Linked DNA regions of Homo sapiens: region 2 is linked to region 1. The links come from fine-mapping of genetic effects on gene expression. A gene starts in region 1. The other region holds a variant in brackets. All regions are shown on one strand. Distances are from middle to middle.

Region 1 (5,528 bases):
CCCATTTAAAAATGGACGGGTAATTTACATACAGGCAAGTGCACAAACCTTCAATGTACAGGGTAATGAGTGTACTTAGGCACTCGCCTGTATAACCAGCACCCACAGGGAGATTTAGAACCTCCTCAGCCCCCAGAAGTTTCCTGTGTGCCCCTTTCCAATCAGCGGCCTCCCTAGAGGCAACCGCTGTCTTGCTGTCTGTCACTGTAGATTAGTTTCATCATTTCTGAAGTTTCATATAAATGGAAACGTGCTGAATGTGTCTTTTGTGGGTGGGTCTTTCACTGTCCTTGCCATCTTGGATATTCATTCATGTTGTGTGTTAGCAGTGATCTGTTCCTTTTTACTGCTGAGTAATTTTCTGTTGTGTGAATATATGAAAATTTGTTTATCCATTTACTCATTGCAGGATGTTTGGGTTTGCAGTTTGACTGTTAGGATGAAAGCTTCTCTGAACACTTGGATAGAAGTCATTTGTGGACACATGTACTCATTTCTTTTGGGTAAATACCTGAGATTGAATTGCTGAGTCATTGGGGAAGCATATGGTTTGCTTTTGTCCACACTGCCAGGCAGTTTTCATCATGGTGGCTCCATTTTACATTCCCACTAGCAGTACATGAGAGTGAAGAGCTGCTTCTCCTCCTTGTCAACACTTGGTATTTTCATTTTAATTTTAGCCATTCTAGTGGTACAGTGGAATCTCTATATGGTTTTAATTTGCTGGTGGCTAATGATGTTGAGTATCTTTTTCATGTGCTTATTGGTCATTTTGGCATCCTCTTTGTTGAAGTACCTGTGTAAGTCTCTTGTTCATCTTTTAATTGGGCCATTTGTCTTTTTCTTATTGGTTTGTGGGAGGTCTTTTTTTTTTTTTTTTTTTCTGAGACAGAGTCTCACTCTGTTGCCCAGGCTGGAGTGCAGTGGTGTGATCTCGGCTCACTGCAACCTCTGCCTCCCAGGTTCAAGTGATTCTCCTGCCTCAGCCTCCCAAGTAGCTGGGATTACAGGCTCATGCCACCACGCCTGGCTAATTTTTGTGCTTTTAGTAGAAACGGGATTTTGCCATGTTAGCCAGGCTGGTTTCAAACTCCTGACATCAGGTGATCCGCCCACCTTAGCCTCCCAAAGTGCTGGGATTACAGGCATGAGCCACCATGCCAAGCCTGGGAGATCTTTATATATGCTAGGGAGGAGTCTTTTGTCAGTCATATAGGATGTGACTTTCTCCTAGTCAGTGGCTTGTCTTTCCCCTCTTTTGATGATGATGATGTCTGTTCCTTCTCTGCTCTGGGACATTTGCTAGGGAGACATTTGCTGATAGGAGGGCGACCCTGATGGGGAGGATCCCCTGAGGTCTCCCACTCCCTCCTGTGGCCTCTGGAGCAGCCTGGAACCCTGTGTGAGTCCTATGCCTGTCTCCACCAGATGGCAGACCTTAGATCACCTGCTAGTTCCCTGCATGGGGCCTGGCACAGAGACAGCACCTAACATGTTCAGTTCCTCCTGATCAGTATGTGTGGGATGTCTACTCTGTGACCAGCTGGGGCTGGACGCTGGGGACACAGCTGTTGATATTACAGCTGCCCTCCCATCTCTGCCCTCCTCAAGGATATAACCTAGGAAAGACAGACCAGCAACCAGTGGTCACAGCACAGAGGTGCTGTGATGGAGGAAGGTGCAGGGGTTAGAAGACCAGAAGAGGGGTGTCTGACCCTGGATGTGGGAGGTGGAGGAGGTACACCATTGCTTTGAGGAGCTCGTAATCCCAGGATGCCAGTCACATGCTCAGAAGGGCTCCCTGAGGACCAGGTGCTGCTGTGGCCAGCGGGCTGGAGGCCTCCCCCTCTGTTTTGGGAGTCTCCACTCTCTCCTCTTAGCCTCTCCTGATCTGCTCCCTCGCCACTGAGCGCCCCATGATCCCAGTGGGGAAACTGAGGCCTGGCATAGCAGAAGGGGTGCTGGGGTTTGATTCCCAGCCTCATGGTGCCCAGGGATGTTGGGGGCTCTCCAGGGACTCTGATTTTGGAATAGGAGCCCCAAGGATGGGCCTGCCCCTGCCCTGCTCCCAGCATGGGAGCGTAGGTGAGATGGAGAGGCAGTGGGCTGGGCTGGAAGATCTTTGACCTCTCCTGGGCCCCTCTCAGAGGTGGACGGGGCCACCTTACTACATAGATAGGGAAATTGAGTCCCAGGAAGGCGCGGGGGGCCTGTCTGTGAGCGTCAGAGCCCACAGGAGGCTCAGGCCAGGCCGCTAATTGCTAATTGCTCACTAAGGATGCATTTGCTCCCCACTTTGAACAGTTGTCTTGGGGCTTCTAATGGAGGTTTTTGGTGCTTGTTTTATTATTATTTTTTCAAAATTGTTCCAGCTTCAAGCTTCAAATTTCCATGAAGTCATTGGAGCCCGACAGCTCCCAGGCCTGGCAGCTCCCAGGCTGCGGAGAGCAGCACTGTGGCTGGGGGAGGGGGCCCTGCACACCCCGAGAGGCTGGGCTGTGGGCTGTGCCTTAGCCTTGCTGCCGCCGCCGCCGCTGCTGCCGCTGCCGGAGCAGGAAGTGGTGGGTCCCAGATGTGACTCACTCTCATTAGGTAGCGTGGAAGGAGCCTTCGGATGGGTGAGCCTGGGCGCGTCTGAGGAAGGGCAGGCGGGGGCCGGGCCACCTCCCTGCAGACCCTGGCCGGCTGCTGGGGCCGGGGAGGAGAGCCAGGTAAAAGTGGGGTGTGGGGATGGAGTGTCACCAGTCCTAGTGGCTTGAGCCCCAGGGGACGGGGCTGGACAGTGGGTGGGAAGCAGCTCACCCGGCAGCCTGGCCTGGGAGTGCACTGGGCAGGGTCTGGGCTGGGGGAGTAGGAGGCTCCGTGAGCCTACTGGGCAGATGGCTGGGAGAGGCGGCCCTTCAACAGGGGACCAGAGGCGACTTGTCACTGGCTTTTCCCAGCCTGACAAGAAAGTGCGGTTGTGACCACAATGTTGTACATGTGGCCCGTTCCATCTGGAATTCTAGGAACCACAGACTCTCAAATGTCCACACTCCTTCTCGAGGGTGTAATTTTACATTTACAAGCACACATGACTTTTCTCAATGAAAGGAAACATTGGCAAGGGAAGGCCAATTCAACTAATTTTATGAAATTATAAAACAAAAAACAAACAAAACCTCTGAAAGGAGTGCATGCCTGAGGGTCAGGAAACCAAGATGCCTCCAAAAAGCAGACTGGTTTCCCTTTCCCTGCAATGCCTCTCCTCTATCCCCCAGGGACCGCATGGGCCATCTGGAGTGGGTCTTTCTGGAGCGGGTCTTTCTGGAGCTTTCTATGCATTCATCTAAACATGTATGTACAGAGGGTGAGGCAGTTGCCTCTTCTCTGTGTCATCACATCAGGGTCAAGGGCAGGGACATCTGTGGCTGGGGGCTTCCTCCCTGGACAGCCATTGCTGGAGAGGAGAAGGGAGGGCCGGGAGGGGGAAGCCAAGGGCCTGGAGGTAGGGGCCAGGCCGAGCCACCTACGACAGGGGCCCTGGGTCCAAGGCCTGGACGGGCAGCCAGTGTGGGCTGGATGTGTCTGGAAGGGCTATGTGACCGTGGGCCTTCACTAGCATCACCATCTTGCAGATGGAGGCTGTGAGGGGTGGACTCAACACCAGTGTTTCTCGGAGTGAGGACCGGGCTGCCCAGGGAATCACAGGGGGTTCTAGCCTGTGTGTGGAAGGACATGTTTAAAATCTAAGTATTTGTCTTGGGGAAAAAAAAATCTGTAAATAGGACATTGCCATTGTGACATCATGACTGTATTATTGTCTTAGACGAGGCCAAAGGAGACATAAAAGTGACAAGCCAGCCAATTTGAGAGGAAGTGCCAAGTGCCAGCCCTGCAGGAAGTGCAGGAGGCTGAGGGGGCTGCAGCTCAGGAAGGCGTTTGCTGCACAGCCTTCGCTTCCCACCCAGTTGTCTGTCTTCCCACCTCCAGAGGCCCTGGGTTCCCAAGGTTTACCTGCAGCTCCTGGTGCAGAGTGTGGGGGAGGGGAGGCTCTCAGATTGTTCCAGATTCTGTGGCCCTCAGAAGGGCAGGTGTGAGCTTTGTGGAGGTAGCGTCTCCGGTGGTATTTTCTTTCTTTCTTATTTTTATTTATTATTATTTTTTGAGATGGAGTCTCTGTCTGTTGCCCAGGCTGGAGTGCAGTAGTGACCCTCTTGGGTCACTGTAACCTTTGCCTCCTGGGCTTAAGCCGTCCTCCTCCCTCAGCCTCCTGAGTAGCTGGGACTACAGTTACCACACCACTACACCTGGCTAATTTTTGTATTTTTAGTAAAGTAAAGACGGGGTTTCACCATGGTGGCCAGGCTGGTCTCAAACTCCTGACCTCAAATGATCCATCCACCTCGACCTCCCAAAGTGCTGGGATTATAGGTGTGAGCCACCACCCCCAGCCTCTTTTCTTTTTTTAAGACAGGATCTCACTCTGTCACCCATGCTGGAGTGCAGTGGAGTGGTCATAGCTCACTGCAACCTTGAACTCATGAGCTCAGGCAATCTTACCGCCTCAGCCTTCTAAAGTGCTGGGATTACAAGCATGAGCCCGACGCCCAGCCTTCTAGTGCTGTTTTCATGAAAGAAGCAGCTGTTTACTAGCAGCTGTTTTCCGGGTGATGAGGGTGAAGGTGGTATTGCAGAACATCTTTGCCAGGAGTAGGTCTGGGAGGTTTGCTTGAGGGCATGGAGGTTGGTGTAGGGAGAGCTCAGGAAGTAGAAATTGGGCTGGAGTGTGGCCTCTGGACAGGCCACAGGAGAGTCTCAAAAGGAGAAAAGATCCCAGCACTTTGGGAGGCCAAGGTGGGCGGATCACTTGAGCCCAGGGGTTCGAGACCAGCCTGGGCAACATGGCGAAACCCCGTCTCTACAAAAAATACAAAAATTAGCTGGGTGTGGTGGCGTGTGCCTGTAGTCCCAGCTACTTGGGAGGCTAAGGCAGGAGGATCCTTTGAGCCCAGGAGTTGGAGGCTGTAGTGAGCCATGACTGTGCCACTGCACTCCATCCAGCCTGGGTGACGGAATGAGACCCTGTCTCAAAATAAATAAATTTTTCAAAAGAGACAAAAGTCCGACTCGATGGTTGCACTGGGGACATGCACCCCACTCTACAATTTATAGCTACTGATTTGACCCATTCCCCACCTCCTCCACCGCTCCATATGGTAGGTGCCGTTCACCTCCAGTTTACAGAGGAGACAGGGCCCAGAGGGGCTGTCTATCCTGAATAACCCAGCAGATCGGTCCTCAGGCATCCAGTTGTGCCCACCACAGTGTGGTCTGCTGCCACATTTGAGCCTGGAGTCAGGGCCAGCACACTGTGTCTTTGGCGAGATCAGATGGGGCAAAGCTGAGAACAGGGGCTCTGGTTGGTGCTGAGGGATTCGTGGGGGTGGTCCTTACTGGGAAGATGAGGAATTGGGCTCCTGTGAGGGCCTCCCCTACCCTGCCCTGTGCCTGGACTTCGCTGGGCCCACTGCGGGAGAGAAGAGGTA
Region 2 (5,000 bases), 79 kb after region 1:
TCATGTTGAATTGTAATCCCCAATGTTGGGGGAAGGACCTGGTGGGAGGTGATTTGATCATGGAGGCAGATATCCCCCTTGCTGTTCTTGTGATAATGAGTCCTCACAAGATCTGGTTGTTTGAAAGTGTGTAGTGATAGGTTCCAAGGTGGCCGAATAGGAACAGATCCAGTCTACAGCTCCCAGCATGAGTGATGCAGAAGACTGGTGATTTCTGCATTTCCAACTGAGGTACTGGGTTCATCTCACTGGGGCTTGTCGGACAGTGGGTGCAGCCCACAGAGTGTGAGCCGAAGCAGGGCAGGGAATCACCTCACTCAGGAAGCACAAGGGGTTGGGGAATTCCCTTTCCTAGCCAAGGGAAGCTGTGACAGACTGTACCTGGAAAATCAGGACACTCCCACCCTAATACTGTGCTTTTCCAATGGTCTTTGCAAATGGCACACCAGATTATATCCCGCGCATGGCTCAGAGGGTCCCATGCCCACGGAGCCTCACTCACTGTTAGCACAGCAGTCTGAGATTGAACTGCAAGGCAGCAGTGAGGCTGGGGGAGGGGCGCCCACCACTGCTGAGGCTTGAGTAGGTAAACAAAGCCACCGGGAAGCTCGAACTGGGTGGAGCCTACCTCTGGGGGCAGGGCATAGCTGAACAAAAGGCAGCAGAAACTTCTGCAGACTTAAACGTCCCTGTCTGACAGCTTTGAAGAGAGTAGTGGTTCTGCCAGCATGGAGTTTGAGATCTGAGAACGGACAGACTACCTCCTGAAGTGAGTCCCTGACCCCCGAGTAGCCTAACTGGGAGGCACCTCCCTGTAGGGGCCAACTGACACCTCATACAGCTGGGTGCCCCTCTGAGATGAAGCTTCCAGAGGAAGGATCGGGCAGCAACATGTACCATTCTGCAATATTTGCTGTTCTGCAGCCTCTGCTGGTGATACCCAAACAGGGTCTGGAGTAGACCCCCAGCAAACTCCAACAGACCTGCAGCTGAGGGTCCTGACTGTTAGAAGAAAAACTAACAAATAGAAAGGACATCCGCACCAAAACTCCATCTGTATGTCACCATCATCAAAGACCAAAGGTACATAAAACCACAAAGACGGGGAGAAACCAGAGCGGAAAAGCTGAAAATTCTACAAATCAGAGCACCTCTTCTCCTCCAAAGGAACGCAGCTCCTTGCCAGCAACGGAACAAAGCTGGAGGGAGAAAGACTTTGATGAGTTGAGAGAAGAATGCTTCAGACGATCAGTAATAACAAACTTCTCTGAGCTCAAGGAAGATGTTTGAACCCATTGCAAAGAAGCTAAAAACCTTGAAAAAAGATTAGACGAATGGCTAACTACATTAAATAGGGTAGAGAAGACCTTAACTGACCTGATGGAGCTGAAAATCATGGCACGAGGACTACGTGATGCATGCACAAGTTTCAGTAGCCGATTTGATCAAGTGGAAGAAAGGGTATCAATGATTGAAGATCAAATGAATGAAATGAAGCAAAAAGAGAAGTTTAGAGGAAAAGGAGTGAAAAGAAATGAACAAAGCCTCCAAGAAATATTGGACTATGTGAAAAGGCCAAATCTACATCTGATTGGTGTACCTGAAAGTGATGGGGAGAATGGAACCAAGTTGGAAAACACTCTTCAGGATATTATCCAGGAGAACTTCCCCAACCTAGCAAGGCAGGCCAATATTCAAATTCAGGAAATACAGAGAATGCCACAAAGATACTCCTCGAGAAGAGCAACTCCAAGACACATAATTGTCAGATTCACCAAAGTTGAAATGAAGGAAAAAATGTTAAGGGCAGCCAGAGAGAAAGGTCAGGTTACCCACCAAAGGGAAGCCCATCAGACTAACAGCAGATCTCTCAGCAGAAACCCTATAAGCCAGAAGAGAGTGGGAGCCAATATTCAACATTCTTAAAGAAAAGAATTTTCAACCCAGAATTTCATATCCAGCCAAACTAAGCTTCATAAGTGAAGGAGAAATAAAATCTTTTACAGACAAACAAATGCTGACAGATTTTGTCATCA[C/T]CAGGCCTGTCTTACAAGAGCTTCTGAAGGAAGCACTAAACGTGGAAAGGAATAACCAGTACCAGCCACTGCAAAAACAGGCCAAATTGTAAAGACCATCAAGGCTAGAAAGAAACTGCATCAACTAACGAGCAAAATAACCAGCTAACATCATAATGACAGGATCAAATTCACACATAACAATATTAACCTTAAATGTAAATGGGCTAAATGCTCCAATTAAAAGACACAGACTAGCAAATTGGATAAAGAGTCAAGACCCATCAGTGTGCTGTATTCAGGAAACCCATCTCATGTGCAGAGACACACATAGGCTCAAAATAAAGGGATGGAGGAAGATCTACCAAGCAAATGGAAAACAGAAAAAGGCAGGGGTTGCAATCCTAGTCTCTGATAAAACAGACTTTAAACCAACAAAGATCAAAAGAGACAAAGAAGGCCATTACATAATGGTAAAGGGATCAATTCAACAAGAAGAGCTAACTATCCTAAATATATATGCACCCAATACAGGAGCACCCAGATTCATAAAGCAAGTCCTGAGTTACCTAAAAAGAGACTTAGACTCACACGCAATAATAATGCAAAACTTTAACACCCCACTGTCAACATTAGACAGATCGACGAGACAGAAAGTTAACAAGGATATCCAGGAATTGAACTCAGCTCTGCACCAAGCAGACCTAATAGACATCTACAGAACTCTCCACCCTAAATCAACAGAATATACATTCTTCTCAGCACCACACTGCACTTATTCCAAAATTGACCACACAGTTGGAAGTAAAGCACTCCTCAGTAAATGTAAAAGAACAGAAATTATAACAAACTGTCTCTCAGACCACAGTGCAATCAAACTAGAACTCAGGATTAAGAAACTCACTCAAAACCGCTCAACTACATGGAAACTGAACAACCTGCTCCTGAATGACTACCAGGTACATAACGAAATGAAGGCAGAAATAAAGATGTTCTTTGAAACCAATGAGAACAAACACACAACATACCAGAATCTCTGGGACACATTTAAAGCAGTGTGTAGAGGGAAATTTATAGCACTAAATGCCCACAAGAGAAGGCAGGAAAGATCTAAAATTGATACCCTAACATCACAATTAAAAAAATTAGAGAAGCAAGAGCAAACACATTCAAAACCTAGCAGAAGGCAAGAAATAACTAAGATCAGAGCAGAACTGAAGGAGATAGAGATACAAAAAACCCTTCAAAAAAATCAATGAATCCAGGAACTGGTTTTTTGAAAAGATCAACAAAATTGATAGACCACTAGCAAGACTAAGAAGAAAACAGAGAAGAATCAAATAGATGCAATAAAAAATGATAAAGGGGATATCGCCACTGATCCCACAGAAATAGAAACTACCATCAGAGAATACTATAAACACCTCCATGCAAATAAACTAGAAAATCTAGAAGAAATGGATAAATTCCTGGATACATACACCCTCCCAAGACTAAACCAGGAAGAAGCTGAATCCCTGAATAGACCAATAAGAGGCTCTGAAATTGAGGCAATAGCCTACCAACCAAAAAAAGTCCAAGACTAGATGGATTCACAGCCAAATTCTACCAGAGGTACAAAGAGGAGCTGGTACTATTCCTTCTGAAACTATTCCAATCAATAGAAAAAGAGGGAATCCTCCCTAACTCATTTTATGAGGCCAGCATCATCCTGATACCAAAGCCTGGTAGAGACACAACAAAAAAAGAGAATTTTAGACCAATATCCCTGATGAACATCGATGCAAAAATCCTCAATAAAATACTGGCAAACCAAATCCAGCAGCACATCAAAAAGCTTATCCACCACGATCAAGTTGGCTTCATCCCTGGGAGGCAAGGCTGGTTCAATATATGCAAATCAATAAACGTAATCCAGCATATAAACAGAACCAAAGACAAAAACCACATGATTATCTCAATAGATGCAGAAAAGGCCTTTGACAAAATTCAACAGCCCTTCATGCTAAAACCTCTCAATAAACTAGGTATTGATAGGACATATCTCAAAATAATAAGAGCTATTTATGACAAAACCACAGCCAATATCATACCGAAAGGCAAAAACTGGAAGCATTCCCTTTGAAAACTGGCACAAGACAGGGATGACCTCTCTCACCACTCCTATTTAACATAGTGTTGGAAGTTCTGGCCAGGGCAATCAGGCAGGAGAAAGAAATAAAGGGTATTCAATTAGGAAAAGAGGAAGTCAAATTGTCCCTGTTTGCAGATGACATGATTGTATATTTAGAAAACCCCATCGTCTCAGCCCAAAATCTCCTTAAGCTGATAAGCAACTTCAGCAAAGTCTCAGGATACAAAATCAATGTACAAAAATCACAAGCATTCCTATACACCAATAACAGACAAACAGAGAGCCAAATCATGAGTGAAATCCCATTCACAATTGCTTCAAAGAGAATAAAATAGCTAGGAATCCAACTCACAAGGGATGTGAAGGACCTCTTCAAGGAGAACTATAAACCACTGCTCAATGAAATAAAAGAGGATACAAACAAATGGAAGAACATTCCATGCTCATGGGTAGGAAGAATCAATATCGTGAAAATGGCCATAGTGCCCAAGGTAATTTATAGATTCAATGCCATCCCCATCAAGCTACCAATGACTTTCTTCACAGAATTGGAAAAAACTACTTTAAAGTTCATATGGAACCAAAAAAGAGCCTGCATTGCCAAGTCAATCCTAAGCCAAAAGAACAAAGCTGGAGGCATCACACTACCTGACTTCAAACTATACTACAAGACTACAGTAACCAAAACAGCATGGTACTGGTACCAAAACAGAGACAGAGAACAATGGAACAGAACAGAGCACTCAGAAATAATAACACACATCTACAACCATCTGATCTTTGACAAACCTGACAAAAACAAGAAAGGGAGAAAGAATTCCCTATTTAATAAATGGTGCTGGGAAAACTGG

What was found. PIP is the estimated chance that this variant, and not a neighbour inherited with it, causes the effect. A credible set is the group of variants that fine-mapping cannot tell apart.
Region 2: its variant is the best candidate, but not a certain one, in a credible set for the expression of ADCY7 in whole blood (TOPMed, PIP 0.74).

What each region holds. Positions count from the first base shown.
Region 1 is chr16:50,263,970-50,269,497 of GRCh38, forward strand. ADCY7 (adenylate cyclase 7) reads left to right here and starts at 2,582. Exons shown (of 26, transcript NM_001114.5): 1 at 2,582-2,711. RefSeq lists enhancers at 479-658, 1,726-2,319, 2,265-2,354.
Region 2 is chr16:50,343,200-50,348,199 of GRCh38, forward strand. All of the region lies in intron 5 of BRD7 (bromodomain containing 7), which reads right to left. Among named protein-coding and RNA genes, the nearest start is that of BRD7, 23 kb to the right of the region's middle. The variant C/T (reference allele first, on the strand shown) is at 2,037.